Linked DNA regions of Homo sapiens. The protein of the gene in region 1 interacts with the protein of each later gene in a biochemical or structural test. Each region holds a gene or a part of one and is shown in the gene's direction. Other genes may lie near its edges. The genes, in order: LEF1, SMAD3, MITF and NLK.

What was found.
Region 2: the proteins of LEF1 (region 1) and SMAD3 form a complex in vitro, tested with the Homo sapiens proteins (2 studies listed by BioGRID, with this or other methods).
Region 3: the proteins of LEF1 (region 1) and MITF form a complex in vitro, tested with the Homo sapiens proteins (2 studies listed by BioGRID).
Region 4: of the proteins of LEF1 (region 1) and NLK, one has a biochemical effect on the other in vitro, tested with the Homo sapiens proteins (4 studies listed by BioGRID).

Annotation. Positions count from the first base shown.
Region 1 is NC_000004.12:108,047,036-108,053,945, reverse strand, and holds the end of LEF1 (lymphoid enhancer-binding factor 1), read left to right. Parts: intron 1-5,194; coding exon of another isoform or gene 5,195-5,274; 3' UTR 5,275-6,398; downstream 6,399-6,910. UniProt on the Homo sapiens protein: Transcription factor that binds DNA in a sequence-specific manner. Participates in the Wnt signaling pathway. Activates transcription of target genes in the presence of CTNNB1 and EP300.
Region 2 is NC_000015.10:67,159,602-67,166,626, forward strand, and holds part of SMAD3 (mothers against decapentaplegic homolog 3), read left to right. Parts: intron 1-5,293; coding exon 5,294-5,487; intron 5,488-5,651; coding exon 5,652-5,783; intron 5,784-6,559; exon of another isoform or gene 6,560-6,592; intron 6,593-6,929; exon of another isoform or gene 6,930-7,025. UniProt on the Homo sapiens protein: Receptor-regulated SMAD (R-SMAD) that is an intracellular signal transducer and transcriptional modulator activated by TGF-beta (transforming growth factor) and activin type 1 receptor kinases.
Region 3 is NC_000003.12:69,742,462-69,749,486, forward strand, and holds part of MITF (microphthalmia-associated transcription factor), read left to right. Parts: intron 1-7,025. UniProt on the Homo sapiens protein: Transcription factor that acts as a master regulator of melanocyte survival and differentiation as well as melanosome biogenesis.
Region 4 is NC_000017.11:28,038,405-28,045,683, forward strand, and holds the start of NLK (serine/threonine-protein kinase NLK), read left to right. Parts: upstream 1-4,272; 5' UTR 4,273-4,469; coding exon 4,470-4,927; intron 4,928-4,933; exon of another isoform or gene 4,934-7,279. UniProt on the Homo sapiens protein: Serine/threonine-protein kinase that regulates a number of transcription factors with key roles in cell fate determination. Positive effector of the non-canonical Wnt signaling pathway, acting downstream of WNT5A, MAP3K7/TAK1 and HIPK2.

The DNA of each region.
Region 1 (6,910 bases):
TTAGTGTGAGAGAACGTCTGTTGAGAGAAATGTGGATTGGATAGCGTTTGGAGGTGAGTAGATGAGGGAGGTCTACCTAGCTAGTTATTACCCTCTGGAAGCACTTCAGCTGACAGAACTACAATGGGCTTTTGAGGCTCTCTCCTTCAAAACTTGCTCAAGACCATTTCTCCCATGTTTCCCGTGGTAGGAAGGATCTAGCGGTCATGACCTGCACCAGGAGGTCTGGCCTACCAATAGGACACATGTCCTCACAGAGGAGACAAACACAGAGGGCTAGGCTGATCAGGAAGAGAAACCAGTAGCTACAGAAAAATTCCCCTGGAGTAATTCATTAACGGTCACAGGCTTGTCTCAAAGTCATCTTGACATTGCCAAAGTCTGGTTGAGCTGATGGTAATTCACTCTGAATAGCCACAGGAGAGGAAGCCTTGCCTTGGTAGAACATGAATCCAGGAGTGGCAATGACCCCTTTCCTCCCACCTCCAGCTTCTGGGAATCTTTTTGCTTTAGAGCTTTGTGGTTAGGGGATTAACTAACTAGTCTTGAATGCTGGGACTAAGGAGTCATTCAGCTGCAGAAATAAAACTCAGTGTTAACCTTCCTAACCACACATTTTCATTTTTCTTTTTTCTCAAATGTTGGGTAATGTTTACTGTCAAGGAGCTGAAGCTGGCTTTTGTAGGTTATATTTCCAGTCTTAGGGACTTAAATTTCAAAGTTAACTTATGCGTTTGTTTCTCTTTATCATCTTTCTTCAAACAGAGCGTGATATCCTGGGGGTGGCTGCACTGTTACAGATGTAGACTGCCTCCACCAGGATACAGGGGTTGTTGCCTGGGGATGGACAGACAGAATGATGGAAGGTAGGAAGGAGAGAAGAAAGTGAATGATAATTTAGTTCCAAGGTATGGTGGAGAGAACACATGTTGAGAGTTCAGAGGCTCATCCTGCTGCCTATTAGTTGGGTGACCTTTGGCAAGTTACTGAACTTCAGGTAGCCTCAGTGTCCTTATCTGTAAGTGGGTGGGAAGATGCAAACTGTAATGATGATAATGTGAAATTCTAAAGTCCATGTCTCAGTGCCTGGCAAATCAGTGCGTAGTGGACAGTGTTTTTGTTCCTTCCCCCTCACCAGCTTCTTGCAGACAAGACCACCTTCAAGTCAACAAGACTGTCACTTTTATGATGCCAGGAGGCCTGGGGAACAGCCCAGCACTGGGACTCTCTAGGGGTCACCATGGGCCAGTCATTTTATGACCATATTCCTAAGTCTCTGCTAAAAAAACAGGATTAGACTAGCTCTGTCACGCTTGCTTCCTGCTGTAGAAGTCTGTACCTCTCTTCCTTCATACACACATGACATTGTGCAGCAGAAGAGTTCACACCCTCAAATCACAGGCTTTTGTCAGTTTTTCCCAAGGTGTAAAAATGGAGACAATTGGCATGAGGTGTGTGGTGTGATGCTGGAATTCCATTTTTGCAATTAAAATCTGTGAATCTGTTTACCTCTCATAAAACCAATCTCTAATATTCTCCCCTCAAATTGCACATCGTTTAAGGCTCCTGCCTCTTGTTAGTAGCATTTGAGAGTGGCGTAAAAGGAAGAGGACGACGAAGAAAGGGTCTTTTATTCCAACTCACTTTTTTTGTATCCTCACCAATTCTGAATAAGGAAGTGATATTACATGATGGGGCAGGGGTGCATTTTGTTCCTGGACACCAGCTTTGCTGCCCTTGCCTTGGCCTGGACAGCTTAAACTGACTGGCCAGTGAGCCCTGAGTGGCACCCTGACAGGGCTGGCCCTTGCCTGCTCCTGACCCTCCACTCCACCACCTCAGAGCTCACCCATAGACTTGTCTCCTTGGCCCTTTCTTCCAGAGGACAGCCTGGGGAGGAACCCCCAGGACATGAGCTGGCCAAGCGCTCTGCTTTTGGTAGGATTTTACATTTATTTGGGCTTAGAGAGAAGGAGTTTCCCCCTTTCCCTTTCTTCACTCCTGAGTCAGGGTCTGTAAAGCCCTATTGGCCCAGGGTCGGTGCTGTTGACCTCCCAGAAACAGGCCCACTCTTGAAATCTTTAGATTCACCTTTATTGCTTGGGCTTTTAGTAAGGAACTCTACCCATTTGGGTTCATGGTTCCATTTGGTTGATGGGATATTTTGTCAAGATTGGAATTTGGTCCAGGAGAGCATCAGGGGGGTTCGGTTATATGGGGTGGGGTGGGGTCTTGTGCCGCCTTTGCATCCCCAGTACAAATGCGTGGTGACTCCTGGTGGAGGGAGCCCAAGTCTGAACATATGTAAGATGGGCCTTGCCTCACTCCCTTTGAAGCCCAGCCGCAGCCGGAGAGCAGTAATTGCTGGCTTTGATTGCGCAGACTTCACTGGTGGGTTGGGCTGTGCCGGGGCTCGCCTGGCCTGGCCCAGCTTCAGCCGCAGCCCCCCAGTGAAGCCTTAGATGTGGGAAAGCTCCAGCCCCTGGAGCCTCATGCCTGTGGTTTCTTGAAAATAATCTGGACTGGACCTGTTTTATATCTGTAAAGCAACACTACAAGGCCCCCGTTTCTCCCACTTGGAAGTAAGACTTGGTCTCCCCTGACATCCCTGTATTTTAAAAGAGCCACCAGGGACAAACTGCCTCATTTCATAGTGAAGGAATTTCTTTGCTCTTTTTTTTTTTTAAGCACTAGTCCCTGAAAGGGATTAGTTGCTTTTTGGTAAGCAACTGTACAGAGGTTCTCTGAAGCCAACTTTCCAGGAGAATTTGCAAGGTGACCCCATGGAATAAGGAAATAACAGGTGGGAAAATGTGAGACTGTGGAAAGAAATGACTTTATTAGGAGATATAGACTCTTTCTTGGCAAGTGACATACTATCCTTTAGGTAAATGGCTATCTCTGGGCACCCATGTTTGTGTTAATCACTATATTATCACTTGTACTCAGCTTAAGAGAGGAGGAGAAGGCACCCTTAGGTAAGGCAGTGAAGGGACAAGAAGACTGGTGGAGCCGGAAGTGCAGGGTGCTCTAGATTGGAGGTGTTAGCCCTGCTTGAGAATGGGGCCACAGCAGGGCCATGGAAGTTGTCTGTACCTCAGTACTTCACAGTTCGCTGTGCCAGGCAGTGGTGGGATGGCCCAACAGAAGGGCAGGTTGTCTCCCTCAGGCGTTCCTGGCTGCCAATGGCGAGTCTATTCTGAGTCCCAGTGCTTGTCTCAGGCGCTAGCCTAGGACTGCAAGGCCAGGCCTCACCAGGAAACTAAATGTTTTCATGTCAGACTGAGAGGAAAACCTTCCCAGGAAGAGCAACCTGGACCAAGCCTTTGAAAATCTGTGATGCAAAATTATAATGTAAATAGGAATCTGTGGGGTGCCCTCTCTCCCACCCCAGGCTCTGCTAGAGCCCTGTTTCTTTCTCCGTAGAAAGGCAGGGTCCTTCGTAGCTCTTTGATCCTCCTGCGTGCAAGATCCATACCTCTGTGGGCCTGGCACAGCGAACTGTGAAGTACTGAGGTACAGACAACTTCCATGGCCCTGCTGTGGCCCCATTCTCAAGCAGGGCTAACACCTCCAATCTAGAGCACCCTGCACTTCCGGCTCCACCAGTCTTCTTGTCCCTTCACTGCCTTACCTAAGGGTGCCTTCTCCTCCTCTCTTAAGCTGAGTACAAGTGATAATATAGTGATTAACACAATGCTGTAGTGTTTTCCTGTTAAACAGGGAATGGTTGATTTTCCAGGAGAATAGAAAATGAAATTGTCATTGGAGGACCTCCTCAGTTGAAATCATTCTGTGGCTGATTTCCTCCTATTTTGTTTTTTGTTGGTTGGTTGGTTTTTGCTTTTTCAGTAGCTACCCAGGTATACAAATAGCTTCTTTGCAGTTCTGATCATCTTTAGGGGCCGCATTGGGCATAATTGGAATAATAATACTAGCTAACCTGCTTGCAGGGCTTGCTCTGTGCTGTGCACTTTGTGAGCACTTTAAATATAGGAGCCAAACCTCTCTTTCCAAAAGCCTGAAGGGCAGGTGTCCTCGCAGTTCCCATTCCATAGATCACCATCCTTCCATGGAAAGTACTCTGTGGACTGTAACTTGCCATCTAGACTTTTGTATTCATTATTAAACTATGTCAAAGTTTCCTTTTATTTCTCTTTTACTTTCTTTTTCCATTGAAATGAAAGTGTACGATAATCCACCATTATTTAGAATGAGTTTCTAAAAGGAAACTTGTGCTTGTAACACGGATAGCACAATCACAAGCACAAAGTGTTGGGATTCATCTGAGGCTGTCAAGGGACCCAGGTTGAGAAGGTGCTTCCAGCATCGCTGCCACCAAAGGAAAGCAGCCTCCCCAAGTTCAAAGCAGCGGAAGCAGGTGCTCTCTGGAGTGAAGGAACGGAACTTTGCCATGCTTTTACTTTCCTTTTGTCTTTGTCTCATCTTGTTACAATGTTACATTTTACTTTTAATCACTTTTTAAAAAATCTCAGATCATTAAAGCTTTGAGGATGTGGGAGTTCTCTTATTTGAAAATCATTATCACCAATATCTGGCAACATTATTTTAACATATTTGCTGAGTGTCCTTTCCGAGGCTATCATTAGAGATCCTTGATGTTAGGAAGGAAAAAAAAATCTTGAAAATTGTAAGATCTTAAGGAAAAAGGGAGCGGTTTGTATCCTCTGGGCTGTGAGTGTGAGCGGACAGAGCACATAGCGTCACGGGAGTTGGCAGTGCGTTGGGTAATGTGATTATGTCTGTCCTATGTAGAATCATACAGTGGCTTCCCACAGTGGACCAAAAACACCAAACACTGCAGAATGACACATCTTTCCCTGATCTGGCTGTTGCCCGCCTTCCCTATTCATGTTTGCCTGTTTCCTACTGGTGTTTTTCAAACTTTTTTTTTGTTCTGTTTACCATGACCCAGAGTATTCACTACACTTCACATCATAACTCTGGGCATACGTATACATGGAACCAAAGTAAAAATGTCACTATATTAACTCTGTAGTGTACTCTCAGGATTTTTGACTGATAGGGCAATTCATTTTAGCCATCCCCAAATTAACAAAATGGATTAATTAAATGCAGAGGTTGTAAGACATATATGGTATGGAATAGAGGTTATAATCTTAAGGCCTACGGCAAATTCATATTAATAGCATTTCATTTGTTCCTTCTTGAGGTGGAAAACGAAGCTCATTCCCAACGTGCAAAGCCAAGGCAGCGACCCCAGGACCTCTTCTGGAGATGGAAGCTTGTTGAAAACCCAGACTGTCTCCACGGCCTGCCCAGTCGACCCCAAAGGAACACTGACATCAATTTTACCCTGAGGTCACTGCTAGAGACGCTGATCCATAAAGACAATCACTGCCAACCCCTCTTTCGTCTACTGCAAGAGCCAAGTTCCAAAATAAAGCATAAAAAGGTTTTTTAAAAGGAAATGTAAAAGCACATGAGAATGCTAGCAGGCTGTGGGGCAGCTGAGCAGCTTTTCTCCCCTCATATCTGCGTGCACTTCCCAGAGCATCTTGCATCCAAACCTGTAACCTTTCGGCAAGGACGGTAACTTGGCTGCATTTGCCTGTCATGCGCAACTGGAGCCAGCAACCAGCACATCCATCAGCACCCCAGTGGAGGAGTTCATGGAAGAGTTCCCTCTTTGTTTCTGCTTCATTTTTCTTTCTTTTCTTTTCTCCTAAAGCTTTTATTTAACAGTGCAAAAGGATCGTTTTTTTTTGCTTTTTTAAACTTGAATTTTTTTAATTTACACTTTTTAGTTTTAATTTTCTTGTATATTTTGCTAGCTATGAGCTTTTAAATAAAATTGAAAGTTCTGGAAAAGTTTGAAATAATGACATAAAAAGAAGCCTTCTTTTTCTGAGACAGCTTGTCTGGTAAGTGGCTTCTCTGTGAATTGCCTGTAACACATAGTGGCTTCTCCGCCCTTGTAAGGTGTTCAGTAGAGCTAAATAAATGTAATAGCCAAACCCACTCTGTTGGTAGCAATTGGCAGCCCTATTTCAGTTTATTTTTTCTTCTGTTTTCTTCTTTTCTTTTTTTAAACAGTAAACCTTAACAGATGCGTTCAGCAGACTGGTTTGCAGTGAATTTTCATTTCTTTCCTTATCACCCCCTTGTTGTAAAAAGCCCAGCACTTGAATTGTTATTACTTTAAATGTTCTGTATTTGTATCTGTTTTTATTAGCCAATTAGTGGGATTTTATGCCAGTTGTTAAAATGAGCATTGATGTACCCATTTTTTAAAAAAGCAAGGCACAGCCTTTGCCCAAAACTGTCATCCTAACGTTTGTCATTCCAGTTTGAGTTAATGTGCTGAGCATTTTTTTAAAAGAAGCTTTGTAATAAAACATTTTTAAAAATTGTCATTTTATTAAGAGTGAAGTTCCTGATAATCTAAAATTGCTAATGAACTGAATCCACAGGCCAGGGCAGAGCTGGTTTGTAGAGAGGAACAGTTTGTGTGAGAGGGGTGCTGCTGGTGCAGCCTTCTCCAGGGACAGGCCAGAACCGGCTGTAAATGGGCACCTTGCCCTGTCTCCTAGACATGCAGTCCTCAAAAGTACTTGTATGGCTTGGGCCTCTCCCTCCTTTTCCAGGTGGTATGAAACAGGGTCAAAGGAAAAAAGAGGGTTGCCAGGATTCAGATGGGAGTGAGTCCTTTCCTGAACACAGATCCTCATGGGCTCCCACCATCTGGTTGTCGTGCTCATTGAAAGTCCACAGGTACCGCCTCTCTTCATAGCTCATTGGTATTCAAACTGGGCTTCCACATTGTGGGGTCCCAGTGGAGAAGGTATGTCTTAACACCCCCACCCATCTCCCCAGTCAACATTTTCTAAGTCCTGAGCTGTATTTCATAATTTTTACCTTACTAGTA
Region 2 (7,025 bases), on another chromosome or scaffold:
TACATAACCTTTACCCCCAAAAAAGTTTCCAAGTGCACCTTGGTAATTGCTCCCTCCAATCCCTACTCCCTCCCTGTAACTCCCTCTGTCCCCAGGCAATGACTGATCCCTGCTTTCTGTCACTAGATTAAGATTAGTGTGCCTTTTACTTTAGTTTAAATTACCTTATAATTTTACACGAACAGAATCATGCCTGGCTTCTTTCACGCAGCATCATTAATTTAGATTCATTCATAGCGTTGCATGTATCAGTAGTTGATCCTTTTTTGTTACTGAGTTGTATTTCTTTGTATGGATATGTTATGGCTCATTCATCTGTTAATACATGTGGAGTAGTTTTCAATTTGGGGCTATTACATTCATGCACAAGTCTTTGGACATAGGCTTTTATTTCTCTTGGGTAAATACTTTGAAGTGGAATGGTGGATCATATGGTAGGCTTATGGTTTTTTAGCTTTTTAAGAAACTTCCAAATGTTTGAGGGATGAATATCCCAATTACCCAGATTTGATCATTACACATTGTATGCTTGTATCAAAATATCGCAAGTACCCTATAAATATGTATAGCTACTGTGTATCCCCCAAAATAAAATATTTTAGAAAGGAACTTCCAAGCTGTTTTCCAAAATAGTTGTACCATTTTACATTTGCACCAGCAGTGGAAGGGAGTTCCAGTTGTTCCACATCCTTGCCAATACATGGCATGATCAGGCTTTTTAATTGTAGCCATTCTAATAAGTATGTAGTCCTATCTCATTGTAGTTTTAATTTGTGCTTCTCTAATGATCAACATTGTCAAGCATCTTTTCATATGCTTGTTGTCTTCATATCTTTCTGGGTAGTGTCTGTTCAAATCATGTATCTCTTTTTTAAAAGATTGAATTGTTGGCTGGGCGCAGTGGCTCACGCCTGTAATCCCAGTACTTTGGGAGGCCGAGGCAGGCGGATCACGAGGTCAGGAGTTCGAGACCATCCTGGTTAACACATGAAACCCCGTCTCTACTAAAAATACGAAAAATTAGCCGGGCGCGGTGCCAGGCGCCTGTAGTCCCAGTTGCTCGGGAGGCTGAGGCAGGAGAATGGCGTGACCCCAGGAGGTGGAGCTTGCAGTAAGCCAAGGTTGTGCCACTGCACTCCAGCCTGGGCGACAGAGCGAGACTCCATCTCAAAAAAAAAAAAAAAAAAAAAAAAAAAAAAAAAAAAAAAAAAGAAGATTGAATTGTTAATATTGAGTTTTCAGAGTTCTAGAAACAGGTCTATTATCAAATATACGCTTTGCAAATATTTTCTCTTAGTTAGTGCTTGCCTTTTTATTCCTTTAACAGTGTCTTTCAAAGACCAGAGGCTTAAATCTTGATGCGGTCTGATTTTTTTTTTATTATTATTAAGTGCTTTTTGGTGTGGTATCTGAGAAATCATTGTCTATCCCAAAAAGTCACAAAGATTTTCTCCTGTTTTCTTCTAGACATTTTAGAGTTTAAGTTTCACTTCAGTTTGTTTTTGTATAGGGTTACAATGTGTAGTTTGAAGATTATCTTTTTTACATATCCAGTTGTTACATCACCATTTGTTGAAGACTGTCCTTGCTCCACTAAATTGTCTTTGGACCTTTGTTGAAGCCAGTCGTCCATATATATGTAACTATTTCTGGACTCTGTTAGGTTCCATTGATCCGTTTGTCAGTCCTTGTGCCATTACCATACTGCCTTGATTATTGTAGCTCCCTTGTTTTTAAAAGTTTAATTAATATCCAAGTGATTCATGTATGATTAATATTACTACTAAGGCAAGAGGGCCACCCACTTCTATCACCTAGATGGAGCTTACCTCCACAGCCCCATTCTCCCCCGCTGCTGGCATGAGCTTTTCTCCAAGGCCTTCTCTTGCAGAGGAGGCTATGATGTCCAGCTGGCCCTTTTTTGGGAGTTTTGTCAAACACCGAAGAGCAAATACGGCCACTTCCCTAATCTGTGGGCACCCAGTGGCTTTGCAGGAGAAGGAGAACAGCTGAATAATTCTCTATTCCCACTCACCACTTCCCACTCTCCCTTTTACTCCTGTTCAACCTCCAGCTCACCCTACTTATCCAGGGCTGGGTTTGGGGAGTATCTGCTGTGATAGAGAATAATAACGCTAATTTGTGGGTGTTTATGAAGCACTTTCAAATGGAAACCAAGCTTCAGGAGGTCGGGGGGCAGAATACCCCATTTTATAGATGAGAAAACTGAGTGTCCTAGGAAGCTCATGAGCTGCCCAGTGTCTCCCAGCTAGGAGAGTAGAACCCTCCTTTACCCCAGGTCTTATGGCTCCACATCCGCCAGTCCTCCTTTTATACCTCAGGGACGAGTCCCAGGCTGTCTTCTCGATCTGCCTGGTAATTACTGTTTTTCAGCTGTAGGGCTTCCTTGTTCTGGGGCCCCAAGGGAGGAAGGTAATTACATCCTTCAAGATGCCCTTAGTCAGCAGCTCCAGGTCAGTTCCTGTGACCAAGCCCAGCTATGACCTTTGTCTGTCCTTTCCCCTTCCCAGGCCAGTGGCTTGGAGAGTGTGATTGGATCCCTCTGTTTCTCTCTTTGGTTGGTGCTGTTGGTGGCATCTGGCCAGCCCTTCCTTCACAGAGTGCCCATGAATTCTCTGTATTCAGGCAAATGGGTGCCCTCGGTCATAAGAAGGCACAGAGGGAAAGCTTGCAAATGTCTCACTGCCAGCCCTGCCAGCTATTAGAAAAATTATGGCACTGACTGGCAGGGTCCTAGGATGGGCCTCCTTGAAGAAAAAGCAGTCCTGCCTCTTAATAGGGTACCTGTGACTCATGAGCATCCATCTCATCTGCTCCCCACTTCTATCCCTGCTACCCGCAATCTGTTGGTCACACGTAGCCAGAGTTCCACAGGGCCTGTCTCTTTCACACGTATGCACAGCCCACTTACACATCTCAGAGGCTACATACTGCTTTTAGAAAACAGGAGAAGCCTTTATCATGGCCTTTGGGGCCCTGCAGAGTACCCCTGCCTGCCTCCCCGGCCTCGTCTCAAGCCAGCTCTCTCTCATGATCCCCTCTCCAGTCCTTCTGGCCTTCATTCTGTTCTTCCGACCTCACCATGTTTTCCACTTTCCACAGGGCCTTTGTGTGTGCCTTTCCCTCTGCTTGTACTGCCCTTCTCCCGCACCCCTTTGCCTGGTTAGTTCTTACTTACCCTTTAGGCCTTCAGGTCAACCATCACCTCCTCTGAGATGCCCTGTCCAGTCCTTCAGCAAAGTGGGGTGCCATGGTCATACACTCTTGGGGTTCCTTGTTATTTTCGTTCAGGACACTTTCATTGTGTGTAATTGTAGGTTTCTGTGATGATGATGATGATGATGATGATGATGATGATGATGATGATTTGAAACGGAGTCTTGCTCTGTCGCCCAGGCTGGAGTGCAGTGGCACAATCTTGGCTCACTGCAACCTCCCCCTCCCAGGTTCAAGTGATTCTCCTGCCTCAGCCTCCTGAGTAGCTGGGATTACAGGCGCCCGCCACCATGCCTGGCTGATTTTTGTACTTTTAGTAGAGACAGGGTTTCACCATGTTGGCCAGGCTGGTTTTGAACTCCTGGCCTCAAGCGATCCACCCGCCTCGGCCTCCCAAAGTGGTTTTGGTGATTATTTGATTAATGCCGGTCTTGCCCAGTGGAATGGAGGGTCCCTGCAGACAGGGACCACTTTGCTGGCCTTTTCTCATAGTGAAGTCTCTTTCCTTACCACTGTATCCTTAGTGTCACACATAATAGGTGCTCATTAAATATGTGTTAAATAAGGGACTCCATTTTAGTGGCACCTCCTCACCTGTCTAATACCAGACACTATCTGAAGTTTTACGTCCCTCCAGAAGCCTTCTGCCTCCCAGCCTTGCCTGTAGCTGACAATGCTTTTGCCGCCCCAAGCTCCCCAGTCCTTTCCTGTAAGCCACCCAGACTCTCATCATCCAGATCACCTGGGGATTTCACAAAGGGAAAGATTCTGATTTAGTAGGTTGGGGTAGGCGCTGAGAATGTACATTTTTAACAAACTTCCCTGAACCTCTGCTGCTGGTCAGGGACCACACTTTGGCCTGGCTTGAGAGGTAAGGGCACCGGGTCATAGCTGCTTGGCCAAATCACCATAGAAGACATGGTTCACACAGGGTCATGGCACTGGCCAATTGTAAGTAGGCACAGTAGTGTGCCCCTGCAGTCCCAGCTACTTGGGAAGCTGAGCTGGGAGGATCACTTGAGCCTGGGAGGCGGAGGTTGCAGTGAGCCGAGATCATGCCACTGCACTCCAGCCTGAGTGACAGAGCAACACCCTGTATCAAAAGTAAAAAAAAAAAAAAAAAAAAAAAAATCCCTTTAATTTCCGTCTTTCACTCCCTGCTCACCACAAATAACTAAAAAAGAAAGGAGGGGCCAGGCACGGTGGTTCACGCCTGAAATCCCAGCACTTTGGGAGGCTGAGGCGGGCAGATCACGAGGTTAGGAGATCGAGACCATCCTGGCTCACACAGTGAAACCACGTCTCTACTAAAAATACAAAAACAAAATTAGCTGGGCGTAGTGGCGGGTGCCTGTGGTCCCAGCTACTCAGGAGGCTGAGGCGGGAGAATGGCATGAACCCGGGAGGCAGAGCTTGCAGTGAGCCGAGATGGCGCCACTACACTCCAGCCTGGGCAACAGAGCGAGACTCCGTCTCAGAAAAAAAAAAAAAAAAAAAAAAAAAAAAAGAGGAGGAAAGGCAAGTTTTCTTTTTTTCCCCTGACTTTCTAATGTGCAAGGGAAGACCTGAGTGAATGAGGGGAGACAGCCTTTGTACTTTGTCACTCTTCTTTGGATCACTGTAGTCCTCATATCTGTGCCTAAAGAACTCTCATTGTCTTCCCCAGCCCTGTCCCCTCTCCACACCTCTGGGCTGAGTAGGAAGCCGATGAGTGGCTCCTGGACCTTTTCCAAGCACAACTGAAGTGACTGAAGTGCGGGCCCTTCCCATGGAATGCCACTCCCTGAAGAGCAGTACAAAGTTGGGGAACCCACCGGGGACTGGTGGGTGAGGCCCGCTCTGCCAGCTGGGAGTCCTCACGGGGCCTTTGTTGTCTTCTCCTGAGATCCCTCCCAGCACTCTCAGCTAGCAGTGCTCTGATCTCCTGGACCTCTGGATCTGGGAGAAATGAGGGGAGAGAGAGCTTTCCAAGTGTCTGAAAGTAGGAGGCCGGACTCTGCAGAAAGCAAGCACAATCCACATTTCCCTCTCTTTCTGCCCCTCCCCGTCCTGGCAGGTCCCTGGATGGCCGGTTGCAGGTGTCCCATCGGAAGGGGCTCCCTCATGTCATCTACTGCCGCCTGTGGCGATGGCCAGACCTGCACAGCCACCACGAGCTACGGGCCATGGAGCTGTGTGAGTTCGCCTTCAATATGAAGAAGGACGAGGTCTGCGTGAATCCCTACCACTACCAGAGAGTAGAGACACCAGGTATGCTGCCTGGCCTGCCTGTGGGGACAGCAGGTGCCAGGGGTCATCACCTCTCCCCGGCTCCCCATCCCCCCGAGGGTCTGCGGTGCACTTGGGGGTGCGGGGACTTTGGTGCTGGTCTGGCATCGACACTGAGCCACCTCTGCTCTGTCTCCCCCGGACAGTTCTACCTCCTGTGTTGGTGCCACGCCACACAGAGATCCCGGCCGAGTTCCCCCCACTGGACGACTACAGCCATTCCATCCCCGAAAACACTAACTTCCCCGCAGGCATCGAGCCCCAGAGCAATATTCCAGGTAGGCACGTGGGCGGCACAGGCTGGCCTGGGAGGCAGGGGCAGCGGTCAGCCCCGACATCAGTCCTGTGGCCCCAATCTCTGCCCCCTGGCCGTCCCCCGCTCACCCCCTCTTTGCGCACAGCTCTGGCCTGAGGGCCCCTGACTCAGAACCGCATCCCTGTTGGGAGAGGACCCATGACCTCAGCTCCCCCCTCACTAGTGATGCTTTTCTTGGCATAGAGGAGCAGCGTGACCCTTCCGCCCGGCCTTGGTGCAGTCATTTATTTTGGAAGCGGAAATAGCAACACTGTTTCTCTCACCGCCCTTGAGGCCCGGACTGGTGTTCAGTCCCAATAGACTGGGGGTCTGCAGAGGCGGGGAGTGAGCTGAGGGCCAGGCAGCAAGTGCGGAGAGCTGGCTCTGTAAATTCGCCTGGGCATCAGGCCTCGGTGAGGGGCTCCAACCTGGGTGGGAATTGAAGTGACTTTGAGTTTTCACTCTGCAGGGAGAAATGGGCTTTGCCGTCAAAGACTGCAAATGTTTTTAGAAGCCCCTCATTTACATGCAAATAACGTGTGAATCACCAGCACTTTCAGACTCCAGGAAAGCTGTGCTTGGCAGCACTTGGGCTAGTCACTTTTGCTTGCTGGGGCAGTAATCCTGCTGCGTTCCTCTTAGAGCATTCTAATTTGGACGTGACGTTCATCCTGGGTTAGTTTACTGGGCTGAGATTGGCTACAGGCCTGTGTGCTTGGGTCAGAGTGTTAAGGAGGAGACCCACTGTCCAACCTTCTCAGATCCTTTGCGGGTAGCCCTGGCGTCCCGCGGGTAAGTCAACTACTCCCTGTTCAAAGAGCAAATCTTGGAGGGCTTCAGTCAGGGTCTGGGGGAGGTTTCAGAGAAATAGATCACACTGTCTTTGCCGTCATTGAACTTGCAACCTAACTGCTGAGTGAGGACACGTCCCTTAGAGACAACAAATAATAACACCTGGTCTGCACAGAAGAAGATAGTAGGGACCAAAGGGTGGGTCTGAGCCTGCAGATCTTCAGAGGACAGAAAGGGGTGAGGCGGAGGCAAGTCTGGACGCCTCCCTGGAGGGGGTGGGGCTTAACCCTCACCTTGAAGGACCAGGATAAGTTAGCCTGGCAGAGGCTCTAGGAGTACACATTTCAGACTTGGGAGTTGATCCGGTCCTGCGTGAGCAAAGGCAGTTATGATCCAAGCGGGAGTCAGAGGTGGACAGGGGCGAGGACAACAG
Region 3 (7,025 bases), on another chromosome or scaffold:
AAATTCAAGGTTCTTAAGATGTCAGCTCTGACCTTATCTCTTGTTGCCTGCCTCCTACCTCCCTCTGCTACAGCCAGGCTGGTCTCCTCACTGTTTTTGGAATACCCCAGGCCCTTCCACCACTGGGCATTTTTATATTGCACTTGCCTTGATCATCCTTTGCCCAGACAGACCCAGTGCTCACTCCCCCACCAACCAGTATGTGCCTGCCTCCAGGAGTCTTAAGAACATTAAGTGTGACGTTGACTGTGGGAAAGTATTAGCATGGTGCCTGGCACGTAGTAAGTGCTCAGGAAATGTTAGCAGATGTTGTTCTTGTTATTTTCTTTACAGTTCATTCTTTAAACATCATTCCCATCACACTGATAGTGTGGCCCTTTTTTGACCACAGTATTTGCGATTGCTGTTCCTCCAAATTCTCTGTCTTCTTTGTCCAGCTATATATTTTTTTCCCATAGGGCTTATATTATAATCTACTGTATAATTTTCCAATATGTTATGTTTATTACGTGTTTCTCCATGCTAGACTGCAAACTCCAAGGGAACAGGGTTTTCTGTTTGTTCCTTGCTCACTATTGTGTCCCCAGAGCCTAGAACAAAGTTTCTCAACCTCAGTGCTATTGATATTTTGGGCCAGATAATTCCTTGTTGTGGAGGGTCCTATGCATTGCAGGATGTCCAGCAGCATCCCTGGCCTCTATCTATTAGAGGCCAGTACTCCTGCCTCTATCAATTATGGCAACCAAAAACATCTCTGAACATTGTCAGACATCCCGTGGTAGGCAAAGTACCCTCATTTCAGAACCACTGGCTTAGAACAATGCGTGACACAATAAATATTTGTTTGAGTATGTGTTGCTTTCTTCCTTAATACCATAACCCACTCAAGGTATGGTATTTGGTTTTTTGTTTTTGCAATGAATATTGTGTTTCCTTTAAAATAGATACCTACTAGGCTTTCTCCAAAGAGGAATTCATATATTGTTCATTGGGGCTAACCTCAGATATTCAAGTCTTTCATGAGGAAGGACATGTTTCATTTCTAACCCAGACATCCTTGCCTTTAGGAATCTGAAGTTGCTGGATTTAGATTATGTGAATCTCATTTTGGTCATATTGGTGGTTAAGGCTGTGTATAGGAAGACACATGCTGTGGGAAAAGGTTCCAATGAATTGTTTGCACACCGTTTCCTCCGACAAGGTTTTAGAAACCTTGTGTTCTCCTGGGAATGAGTTCTGAATGGTGGGTGGCAGAGGAAAAGCGCTGAATATCTAGAGTGAGCCCAGAATTCACATAGGCATAGTCATGGCAGGGAAACAAATGTGAAACTGTTGAATGAGCTCCTAGGAGCAGAGGAAGTCTCTACAGGTCTTTTGTACCCAAAAACATTTTAAACCGTAGGAGCATCTTTCAGGCTCATAGTCCTTTTGTTTGGTTTACTCAGTCCACATGGCTTTGTAGTTGTTAATGTCCTTTTCCTGGACAGACTTCACAGTTGGCTTAGTTTAATTCCAATTTCTTCTTAAATCTTTAGTACTATTTAGACAGCTGTTATTACATTTTCTGCAAATTAGAAATGGGAATGAAAGTGAGTATTAGCTTTATCATGGCAGGACAGGATACAGCAGTGATCCCCAAATGCTGATTCACAAAGGTGTGTGAACTTTTAAAGGTTTGGGTGAAATGAGAAAGACAAAGACTGTTGCGTCACACGCATACCTACATATATTTGGGTGTAAGGCCGCTGCCATTTCTTGGAGTTATGCTGAGATGTTTTTCTCCTGTCTTCATATTAAAAAATGCCCTTTCTTTGATGACATAATAATCCATTCTTGGCAAAACAAAACTGTCAATCATTTTTTGATTTCTGAAAGTTTTCTTGATTTTTTTTTTGGTCTGTCTAATCTGAGGGAACCACTAGCATAGAGATGAAGAGCCTTGTTCTGCCATCGATGTCTGTCCCTAACTAACTGGGTGACCTTGGGCAGGCTGGGTGACGTCTAATTTCAGTTTCCTCATCTGGCAAATAGGGGCCTGCCTCCAGTAGTCTCAAGAATATAAGTGTTACATTGACTGTGGGAAAAGTATTAGCATGGCACCTGACACACAGTAAGTGCTCAGTGCTGACACATAGTAAATGCTCAGTAAATGTTAGCAGATGTTCTTGTTGCTATTTTCTTTATTACCTAGCAGCGAACCTGGCATTTTGGAAGGTGTTTTGCATTTGCTTGACTGTGGTTGTCTTCTCTAAGGCAAGTGTTGTTACGCAACACAGTTCTTTGAATGTTAGTAAATTCCTTTTTGCTTTTCTTCTAATGAAGTGTTCAGATAAATATTTTACACTTTGTATCTTTCATTTAATCATAACAATTCTTTTATGCTAGTTAAAAAAACTAACAATTTTGACATTAGTGTATCCATAAAAATTCGTGTTCAACACATATTTATTGAGTCCTAGTATGTGCACATTAATACTAATAATGATGGGTCACATTTATTGAGTATGTACTATGTGTGAGCCCCATTCTAAGTGTTTTTACGTGTGTAAAACCTATTTAATCTTTGTGAAATCTGCATGAGGTGATCATAATAAATAAAAACAATAATGATATTAATTATAATTTTAAAAACAGTTAAGACTTATCTAGTGCTTCCTATGTGCTAGGCACTATTATGAATATTAACTCTATATTAATGCTGTTAATTCAACCTTGGGTGTATGTAATAGTTTATTATTCTCATTCTACAGAGAGGGAAACTCAGGTATGCCAAGTTGGTGGGGCCTGGAGTTAAACTGATGCTTCTGTAGCTACATGCTCTTGTCCTCTAGTCTGTACTATGCCTGGTTGATTGTGCAAAATTCAAAGATACATCATACTGTGCCCTCCCTGTGTGGTGAGGGAAAGAGAACTCATGGGTCCAGCTAATTATACAAGGCAGAGTGTGGTCCCTGTGGCAGGGTGGGCATCAGCAGTTGGGGGCATTTAACAGAGGAAGGGGAACTGGGGAGGCAGTTTTGTGGACAAATAGGGGTGTTTGAGTTTGGCCTTAAAGGTGAAACAATAGTCAAATGTGTTTCTCTACACTAAGTAAAATGTTAGACATCTTGGAGGGCATGGTCCTAAAGTAGACATTTAGGGTTTCCGTTTGCCTTTTAAACTTCTAACCTTTCTTTAAGCTCTTTCTTGTGGTCTCCAGGCACCTGATGATACCTCATGGTGGCAGAGAGGCTGCATGCATGTGGACAGGTTTAGAGGGAGCCCTGCTTAAGTGCTGTCTGTGGTCGCTGCTTTGCCACTTAACCAGTACATCTGTGTTCAAGAAACTTAACTTCTTGGAGTCTCAATTTCTCTAAGCTGTAAAATGAGATCAATAGAACCCACCCCCTTAGGGTTGGTAGAACTTTTAAAACTAAGCAAAAATGTATAAATGTGTTTAACATAGCACCTAGCACTGTTAGTAAATGAAATTAATTCCTCCTTTTCTAGTAGAATTTTACTATGGTAGCAGTTTTTACCCTTCTCTTAAGAATAACTAAAACATATATAGAATCATGCATCCAAAACAAAGTAGACAAGATTGAGGTGCCTCAACCTGCAGATGTTCAAATCGTACTATGCAGATTCGTTTTGTGGTATGATTAGAGGGAACACTTGATTAAAGTGGGATTCTCAGTCTTGGTTTCGTTTGTTATTGGAGATTTCCTTTTCCCGATTACTACTATTTACAGATTTTACTTAAGTTGATATATGTTTAATTCCCTTTGAGTTCTGCAGTGCAGTTTGCACAGGCTGATGTTTATATCTGCTCCAGTTGTGCAAGAAGTGGAAAATATCCTTTTTTTAGAACAGATCACATGTGCTTACTGTCAGGAATAGGACCTCAGTGTAAAAAAATGTATCTTGGGACAAATCAAAGTTACTAAATTTCCCTCTCCAACTGCTTTGTTTCAGGATTGGCAGTATTAGGATAAATAATAGGAAAAAAAAATCCTTGGCTACTTTCTTTTTGTCATCTTTCAAGGACAATAAGTGAGAGTTTCATTTTTTTTGTGTGTGTGTATGTTTGTGTGTGTGAGGTATAAAATGTACTTTGCTGAGGGTTTGTCTAATCGGAATAAATTATAAAAATATGTTTGACTACACTCCAAGTATGCATTATTTGGAGAAAATAATCATGAAGACAGGTCAAAGATATTAAATGCAGCCACCACAAGCTTTTGATATTATAAAGGCAAATTTGCAGTTTATAAGAAGGTTTTTGTGAGTCTAGTGAACATTGTGTACTCCGAGGATAGGAATTATACCAAGGGATAAGTCTGCATCTTTATAGAGACAAACGAGGTCGAGAAGACCCACAGGGAGGTCTGGGATCTCTGTTGAAATTTCTGCACCTCCCGTTCTATTGCAAATGATCTTGGGAGGAGGACCAGGTTTGGCTTCTCAATGGTAAGCTTATTTCTCTAGCCCATTTCTACAATGTGGCTTTCTTATTTCTTCGCTTCGTCTTTCCCTCCTGTGGCTTTGGATGCATGCTGTGAAGAGTAGAGAAGTAGACCTTTGGAGTGTTCACCTGAGACCCCTGTCCTGGGATTCAGAGTGATGAAGCTTTTATCTTTAATGGCTGACCTTTCTGGGGACTTCTCAAGGACTGGGTGCTGAGTGTCAGTCTCTGTGCTGGCCATAGGGAGTCCAGTGGAGAAGCAGATGGGTTCCTGCTAGCATGGTGCATACATCTTGGAGGTGGCGCACAGTTAACAATGAACCAAATACATGAGCAAGATGAGTTTTACTAACTGCTATGGAAATTAAATGGAGCATTATTGGTAGAATGGGCCTATGAAAGAAGGGGGCTTTTTATTCGGTTGTATGATCAGGAATGACCTGTTGGAAGAAGTGATTTTCAGGCAAGACTGAATATCTGACATAAAGGCACAAATCCAGACACTACCACTCACTGGCTCTGTGACTTTGGTCAAGTTATCCAACCTTTCTGAACTCTAATTCTCTCTTCTGTAAAACGGGACAGTTGCCATCTTGCAAGGCTTCTGTGAAGATAAAAGGTAATGTATGTAAAGCAGCTAATATTAGGCTTGAGGCTTAGTAGGTGTTCAGGGTTACCCATAGGACTGAAGTTAACATATGAATAGTGGAAAAAGAAGCACAGACATTAATCTTTGTTATAAGTGTTTATAACTCAGTCTTAAATGTTTTCCTAATGTTGAGTGAGTCAGAGATTCATGCTTGTCTTTATAAACCTAACCCTGGACTAAAAGAGGAGATGGGTCTTGTTAGTTTTGTTATCCTTTCTTTCCTCTAGGATCATCCTACTTGATGTCATCCCTTGTTCTCCTGACTGTTGTTGTCCTGAGATAATTAATGTCTGACCATAGTTTTTGGGGCTGGATTTTTAATTACTTTTTTGGTGTTAAGGAGAGGCCTAAGTAATTGAGGATTAAAAAGGAAAGCCTGAGATTGATTTCACAAAACATACACGCCTACCACGAACAAATAACCAGTGTAGAACTCCTGACTCCTAGTCCTGTGTTTCTGTCCTGAGATCATGCTTCCTGTCCACTCTGTTGTGAAAATGTCAGTGTTGGTGCAGAAACAAAAAAGAAGAAGCTCTCCTCCCACATACCACCTCCAGTGTTCACCAACTTTGACATCCACAGGAAGTGGCATGCATTTAATTTGACATCTTTAAAAAAATCTTCAAAGCATTTGGATTTTAGTAGCTGTGTTCTTTGATTCAAGTACCCACAGAGTGATAATTTTCTTTCTTTCTTTTTCTTTTGAGGTGGAGACTCACTCTTTTGCCCAGGCTGGAGTGCAGTGGCATGATCTTGGCTCACTGCAACCTCCGTGCCCAGGTTCAAGCAGTAGTCCTGCCTCAGCCTCCCAAGTAGCTGGAATTACAGATGTGTTCCACCATGCTTGACTAATTTTTTGTATTTTTAGTAGAGGTGGGGTTTCGCCATGTTGGCTAGGCTGGTCTCGAACCCTTGACCTCATGTGATCCACCTGCCTTGGCCTCCCAAAGTGCAAGGATTACAGGCATGAGCCACCATGCCCGGCCAGAGTGATAACTTTCACAACGAAAAATACTGGGTTGTGTGACAGCAAATATTTTAAGTCTAAGTGCATGCCCTATAGAGGGCACTGGTAGAATCCTGTCATATAAGAAATTGTGCCTCATTGAGCAATTTCAGGAAGGCATCTGTGGTCTTCACCCTCCCCACCCTTGCCTCTTCTCCAAAGTGGGGTAACTTGCTGAATCATTCACACACATTCATCAGTTTTCCCATGTGATTAAGGGCATCATTGGAAAAGTGGTTGTCCCCACTGTTGGGAGAAAGCATAGCTTGTATTTGTAGAATAGGTTTCCTTCTGGGAAGGTTGACTTGCCTCAGTGGAAAGAAGACTTGAGGCAGAGAGGTTTCACTTAGCCTGGTGGCTGTGGTTATATATGAAATTACGAAATGACAGACAGGAATGCTATATTTACTTTGGTACCTTTACCATAAAATATTCCTAAATACTAACTGATTCTAGGAAGCATGTTTTTCAAAAACATACATTTTATTTTTTACAGTTGGAGATTTGAAATTTGGTGAAAGGAAATGCTCATGGAAATCCTAAAGATGATTTCCTTGTTTAACTCAGGACCTAGCTCAATCCTGGTGAAGGCTACTAGAGAACCTCATTGAGATGTAGCCACACTGTACCTCTTGCCTGCAGTGTGTCCTAAATTCGTAGAGATGGTGCTCTAAAACTGAGTTCATGAACCAACACACAGATATGTCATTGGTCAAATTGTAACATTCCCTTCCATCAAAAGGACTAGGTATATATTTGTCATTGTTTTGTTTTGTTTTTAGCATTTGAATTTTTTCAGCGAAAGGTGGAAAGGTATTATTTCAGTGTTAGTTTTGCTCTGCTGTATTGGTGAGCCTGCATAGTTGCACCATCTAAATTTAGGATGCTGGCACCTCAGCCAATAAGAACTCTTTGTAACTAATTTA
Region 4 (7,279 bases), on another chromosome or scaffold:
AGCGAGACTCCGTCTCAAAAAGAAAAAAAGAAGGGACACAAACTCATCATGAGTCCAGAAGCATCTGTACATCTATCTCCTCTCCCCCACAGTTGAAGTTAGCACCATGCCTAGATATAATTGGTGCTTAATACATGTTTGTGGAAGGAATAAATAACTCTTAATGTACAATTGTTTTCTCGTGGATTAGATTAATTTATTTATTTCACATGTATCAAGCACTTTCTATGTATTATTATAGTACTATACTAAGCGCTGAAAAAGAAAGTTTACAAAGACTAAGCTCCTTTACTCTAGGCCTGTGCTTCTTAAGCTCTAGCGTTTGTAAGAATGACCTGGAGAGCTTGTTAAACAGATTCCTCCTCTCCTCCTCCAATTCTTATTCAGTAGGTCTGAGGTGAAACCAGATAATTTGCTGAACATCTAAGAAGCTTTTAGGAAACTACACTTTGGAGGAGAGTGCTGTGCATTGGAAAATTGGAAACATCTCAAATATTACATGAGGGTGAGTGTTGAAGAGAATTTATATTGCATTTTCACTATTTGCCAAGCACGTTTAAATACATCACCTCATTTAACCCTCATATAGACCTCATGAGTCATGTATTATTTCAGTTGAGGCAACTGAGATTGAGAAAGGTTAGTTAAGTTGCCTAAACTATAGAGTAAGTAAATGGCAGAGCTTGGGTTTGTACCCACTTCTGCACTCAGTAATTCAGGCAAATCTGTAGCAAGTGTCTTCTTTTTTTTCAGGCACTGTCCTAAGGAACTGGGCATACAACATTGAGTGAGACAGACAAGCTCTCTGTCCCCGGTCAAACTCAACAAGCACTTAAAATATCGATATGAGGGAGGCAGTGTCATGGAGATATACAACAGAAACGTATACTCTAGAACAGAGTTAGAACTTTCCAGGAAAAAAAGTAAAATTTACACGAAGACCTGAGGGATGAATTAGAGCAGTGAAGGATGAGCGGGAAATGTTTTGGGCTGAAGATATACATGAAGGCTTGAAAGCATTCAAGGAGCTGCAGGAAGTTCAGAATGTCTGAAGTGTGGAGTGGAAGGGAGAGATAAGACCCTTGAGGTAGGTAGGCAGGAACCAGATCATGCCAGGCTATTTAGGGGTACAGCCAGCCTTTTTTTTTTTTTGACAGGATCTCACTGTCACCCAGGCTGGAGTGCACTGGTGGGATCTCAGCTCACTACAGCATCTACCTCCCTGGCTCAAGCTATCCTCCCACCTCAGCCTCTTCAGTAGCTGGGTCTAGAGACATGTGTACCACTAATTTTTGTATTTTTTGTAGACACGGGGTTTTGCCACATTGCCCAGACTGATCTTCTGAACTCAAGGGATCCACGTACCTTGGCCTCACCAAGTGCTGGGATTACAGGTGTGAGCCACTGCCCCTGGTCTCAGATTTGTATTTTTAAAAATTTACTATGCCCCCAGAGGGGGATGGATCAAAGGAGAGCTAGCTTGCAGGCAGGGAAATGGTTAAAGATGTTAGTGGTGTAAATTTGGGTAAATGCTGTGTGACTGGGAAGTAGCAGAAGTGAGGGGGATTTAAAATTGTTTAAGACTTGATGATTCAGCCTGGGCAACATGGCAAAACCCCATCTCTACAAAAAAATACAAAAATTAGCCAGGTGTGGTGGCATGTGCCTGTAGTCCCACCTACTTGGGAGGCTGAGGTGGGAGGATCATCTGAGCCCAAGAGGTGGAGGCTGCAGTGGGCTGTAATCATGCCACTGCACTCCAGCCTGGGCAACAGAGACCATGTCTCAAAAAAAAAAAAAAAAAAAAGAAGACTTGATGACTGATAGATTGGAAGGGACAATGTGGACAGGCAAAGGAGGGATCGAAGATGACTTCCAAGTTTTTGAGTAAACTATACAGTTTCAGTAGGGATAAGGTTCTGTAAGCTTATTATTTCACATTTTAAAGGAAGGGTAAATTCAGATAAATGAAGTGATGGAAAGATGCTATTTTAGTAAGATTTCAATGACAGAAACTTACTTGATAGAAAATATGGGAGAGGCTGGAGGCGGTGGCTCACGCCTGTAATCTCAGCACTTTGGGAGGCCAAGGTGGGAGGTGGGAGGATCTCTTGAGCCTAGGAATTTGAGACCAACCTGGGCAACATATTAAGACCCTGTTTCTAAAAAATTAAAGAATCAGCCGGGCATGGTGATGCACATCTGTAATCCCAGCTACTCGGGAAGCTGAGGCGGGAAGATTGCTTGAGCCGGGAGTTGGAGGTTGCAGTGAGCTAGGACTGTGCCACTGCAGTCTAGCCTGGGTGACAGAATGTGACCCTGTTAAGAAAGAAAGATAGAGGAAAATTATTATTTTTGTGGTCAAGTTTACTTTTTTTGTTTTAATTTGCACCAACAGCTTTATCATTTGTCGACAGTGGAGTTCTGAATGCCAGAGATTCCTCCTCTTTTTGCCAAGATCAGGATTAACTATGGAGAGGACCGGCCGTAGACTACGAACTGTCAGTCTACTGAGTTTCTGTCAGTCTTTTGAGTTTCCTTTGTCTTCTTGTTGAGTGACCTTGGACCTTGAGTTTCTGAAGCTCAACATTCCCTTTTTCTTCCCCTATTTTTTACCCCACACTTTACATCTTAAGTGGGATATTGGACATCTCGGATCAGTGGACCAGTGATGATTTGGACTCCGCCTTCTTCGTCTAGGTCCCGCCCACTTTAAGACCCCACCCCTTCCCTAAGCCCCGCCCCTTGAAGAGGTTGTCTCGATATGACAGCAAATTCTCCACAATCCTGTCCTATAGGAGATCTAAAGGGTGGGACTTACATCAACCTTTTTTTTCCATTTGTTTTTTCAAGTGTCTATTTGGCCCAGGTTCCATCCCACTTCATTTTCAACCCAAGGATTGGTTACTCTGTTCTTTGTCTCTGGCTCATGATTGGTTCTTTCGTTCCGCCCCTCTCTTCCAGCTTTTGCAGGCGGGATTACCACGCAGCTTCCTGCTCCTGCCAAAAAAAAAAAAATAAATAATAAAAGAAGAAGAAGAAAAGAGGAGAGAGGCGAAAGAAAAATGTCACAAAGATCTTTGCTTTTTAATTGGCTTTAAGCCTTGTCGGTCAAGCCAAACTCTGCCTTTGATTGGTCTTTCTATCTGCCCATCCCGGATCGGGGGCGGGATTTCCCCGGAAGACCCACACCTTGTTGCCACTGGCCGAACAGTGCGCCTGTCTGAAGCTCCTGGCCCAGGATTGGAGGCGGTGGCGGACAGGTGGGCGTGGATTGGCTAGGGCAGCCGGTCCGTGCAAGGCGGGGGCGGGGCCTCGGCGGCTGGTTGCGCGTGTCCGACGCTGGCTCCGCTCTATCCGGCTTTGCTAGGGGAGGTGAGTCCGGCCGCGGCGGAACCGGCGGCTGAGGAGGCGGCGGCTGAGGAGAAGGCGGCCGCGGCGGCTGAGGAGAAAGCGGCCGCGGGGACGGAAGCCGGGTGGGGGGGAGGGGGGGAGACGGAGCAGCCTTGAGCCCTGCGGGGCCGTTGCGCGGGGGACCCACCCGCTCTCCCCCCCAACCCTCCTCAGCAGAAGCAGCCGGCGGCGGGGGCAGGAGTCAGCCCGCTTCCGACCGTACCCCGCCCGCCTCCCGGGGCTCCTGTTCTTTGGCCCCGGGACCCTAACCTTCTCCCGGGGCGGTTCCCTCCGTCTGGGCGTCCGAGCGCTGCCCACATCTTTCATTCCTCCCTGCACCTCCTTCCCTTCACTTTTGCCCCGGCTCTCTTTCTCCTCTCTGTCCTGCTGTCGCCTCCTCTCCTCACTCCAGCCTCCTTCCCTGGCTTATTCTGCCCAGGAAAGTTTGGAACCCCCGCCCCCCCTCCCCAATCAGGTCAACCTGACTAGGAGTAGGGGGAGATGTAGGAAGGCCTGAGAGTTCGGGGGGGGGGAAGCTGGAAGCTGGTTTCCCAGAAAATTTCCCCCCATCTTCTCCATTTAGGGTGGTGGGAATTTTTTTTAATCCTGTTTTTGAGGAGGTGGTAGGTGTTTAGAAAAGGATGTGGGAATGGAAGGGGTAGATGAGTCAACCCTCTTTCAAGATTCCAAGGGTGGTGTGTTACCTGATCCTTTTCGTGTGTGGAGTTCAGGGGGTCGGGAGGTTTGGCCTTTATTCCCACATTCAAAGTTGGAACCTCCCCCAAATTAAGAATGGAGTTTTAGTACCCACTTGTGGCAGGAATCCTGGGGGGAAGGGGTCCTTTTTTCCTTTTTCTTTTCTTTTTTCCCTTTTTTTTCCTTTTGGCAACCCACACCCTTCCACACACGCTCACCCCAAAATTAAACACCAAGATCCTCTAACTTGTTTGGATTGACTGATGAAGACATAAAGCTCTATGTTTTTTGAGGTGGAGTGAGTGGTTTTTCTTCATTTTTAAATGGCCAAATGACAGCTTGACCCAGTTTGCTTTCCAATCAAAGGGCATTTATTTTGAATGTCTCTTTGTGGCGCAAGAGCCAACGCAAAAATGATGGCGGCTTACAATGGCGGTACATCTGCAGCAGCAGCAGGTCACCACCACCACCATCACCACCACCTTCCACACCTCCCTCCTCCTCACCTGCACCACCACCACCACCCTCAACACCATCTTCATCCGGGGTCGGCTGCCGCTGTACACCCTGTACAGCAGCACACCTCTTCGGCAGCTGCGGCAGCCGCAGCAGCGGCTGCAGCTGCAGCCATGTTAAACCCTGGGCAACAACAGCCATATTTCCCATCACCGGCACCGGGGCAGGCTCCTGGACCAGCTGCAGCAGCCCCAGCTCAGGTACAGGCTGCCGCAGCTGCTACAGTTAAGGCGCACCATCATCAGCACTCGCATCATCCACAGCAGCAGCTGGATATTGAGCCGGATAGACCTATTGGATATGGAGCCTTTGGTGTTGTCTGGTGAGTATCCAAAGAAAAACACAACCTCTCATGGTTTCTTCTGTTGGTTGTCATTGGATGAGTCCATCTCTAATGGTTGTCTCCATGTTGACCAAGGTGCAGCAAGCTTCTCAACCCAACTGTAGGAAGCCACCCTCACTTATGTGGTAAAGAGGCCTAATGCATTGGCTGTCTAGGCTCATGGCAAGTTTTGGTGGAGCGCCTTCTCATGAGCAACACACATAAGTGTGCTGTCTACCAAACTTTTCTATTAGAACCTAAGCAAGCCACTGAACACAGGATCAGTAGATGAATGTATGCAATACTAATTCCTACGAAGACCTTGGTCATCTCGTGTGTTTGATTCAGTGGCCCTGTGGCATTAAGTGTTAGCACCTGATCCAGACTGAATTCCTTTATAATACTCTTGTCATTAGGATATACTTTGCATAACTACTTTCCTGTCCTTTCTGTCTTTTCACTTATTTTGTGATCTTGATCTCCAGAAGAAAGATAGGATTCATAGTTGAACCAGTTAAGATCATTGCTTGAGTGGTTTATTTTAAACCATAAAGCTACAGTTGAGAAGTATGTAGCTGTAGCCTTTTGATAAGAATGCATTAAATATAGCATCACACATGAGTACCACAAATGAGGTTAGTAGACTAGCTATGCAGTGGCCCACATTCAGTGTAATGTTTTAGTGTCATTTAGTGCCTCTTAAGTTGCTGTTATCTGTTGGTCAGTTGCTGTAGTAGGAAATAATACTTTTTTAACAAATGACCCTACCTTTGCTAGTGCTAGGATATTTGTAAAAGCCTAAGGGCTTCTTAAATATAACATTTTGGTCTATTTGGTCTAACCTTAGAAAGATTAGTAGTTTATAATAAAATATGTTTGTTCCTATCAAAACTAGAATGAACTGGGTTTTCTCCCAAGGACTAATGATTCCACTTTGGATAGATGAATTGATATTTTCAGTGCATTCAAAAATTGTTACTCCCGAGAAAAGCGCCCATTACCACAGGAAAATGAACTCTTTGGAACTAGCCCGGTAAATATCTCCTTTCGTCATTGTTTTTGAGGCTAAAATTGATGGGTGCATTGTTTATGCATTTTAACTGGCCATCTTATTTATATTTCAGATTTGATAATCTAGGCTGCTAAGTGATCTCATCCATTTTTTAAAAAAACTAGTAGAGTCCAGTGTTTTCTCAGCTAGTCCCCAAGGAAGTTTCTGCTGCAGCGTGGTCCTTTCTTCAAGGTGTGTGGGATTCAAGGTGGAAAAGAGTATAGCTGGTAATGGTGCCTTGGTCATTCTGCTCAGGGACCTGCCTGTTCCTGCCTTCCTCTCTTCCCTTCCACAGACTATCTCAGAGATTTAACTGTGAACTTATCCTTGCCTAACTCTTGAGGATTTCCAAGCTTTGGTTGGGGGATGGAACAGACAGGAAAACGGTTGTTCCTTGGTTTAAATTTTGTCATTGATTTACTAATAACTTTTAGCACTTGTTTGGATCTTCTTAGATCTGGATGCTTACTTTCTTTTTTAGTGCCTTACATACAATGCTAAAAACTAGGGATACTGAAAGGGAAATGGGTTGCAGCATTCTTGAATATATTCAAAAGGCATTTTTCACTTACATTTCTATCAAAAAGTGATGTGACTTGTAGCAGTTTTTATTTTATTTATTTATTTTTTTAAGGAAGGGGGCAATAAAGAACTGGAGTGCTGAAACATCTCACACAGCAAACGTTCTGCTAGTGGGTACTATGAATCTTTGATATCTGAAAGCCCACATATATTTGGTTTGAAGCCATTCTAGAGGTTTTTAATTGATTGACTGCTCTACCACCTATGGAGTTTGTCTCATGTACTTAAAGTACACCTCTGTGCACCATCTTACTTCAGGTTTGTCTTGTGTCACTGACTACATTCGTAAGCCCCTTGAGGGTAAGGATTGTCTACTGTAGTAATCCTTTTCTCCTCAGCGCCTAGCACAGTGCTTTGGCATCTTTGCTGCTTGGTTAATTGATCTAGTCAGGTCCTTCTTTGTTTTGGCTTAAACAACAGAAAATTATTTCTCACAGTTCTGGAGGCTAGAAATCCAATATCAAGGTACAGGTTTGGTTTCTTTTGAGGCCCCTCTGCTTGGCTTGTGGATGGCCGTCCTCCTGTGTTATCACGTGATTCGGGTCTTTGTTTTTTTAACCAAGTTTTTCTAGTTAACTGCATTGAGTGTTTTCATCAGCTGTTACAGGTGAAATACAATTTGGTATGAAAAAGGAAAGAGTTCCAGGTGTATGTTTTAGTATGCAAATGCTTTTCTATTTTTATATTTACATGTCAATGACTTGCTGTCTGAATTCCTT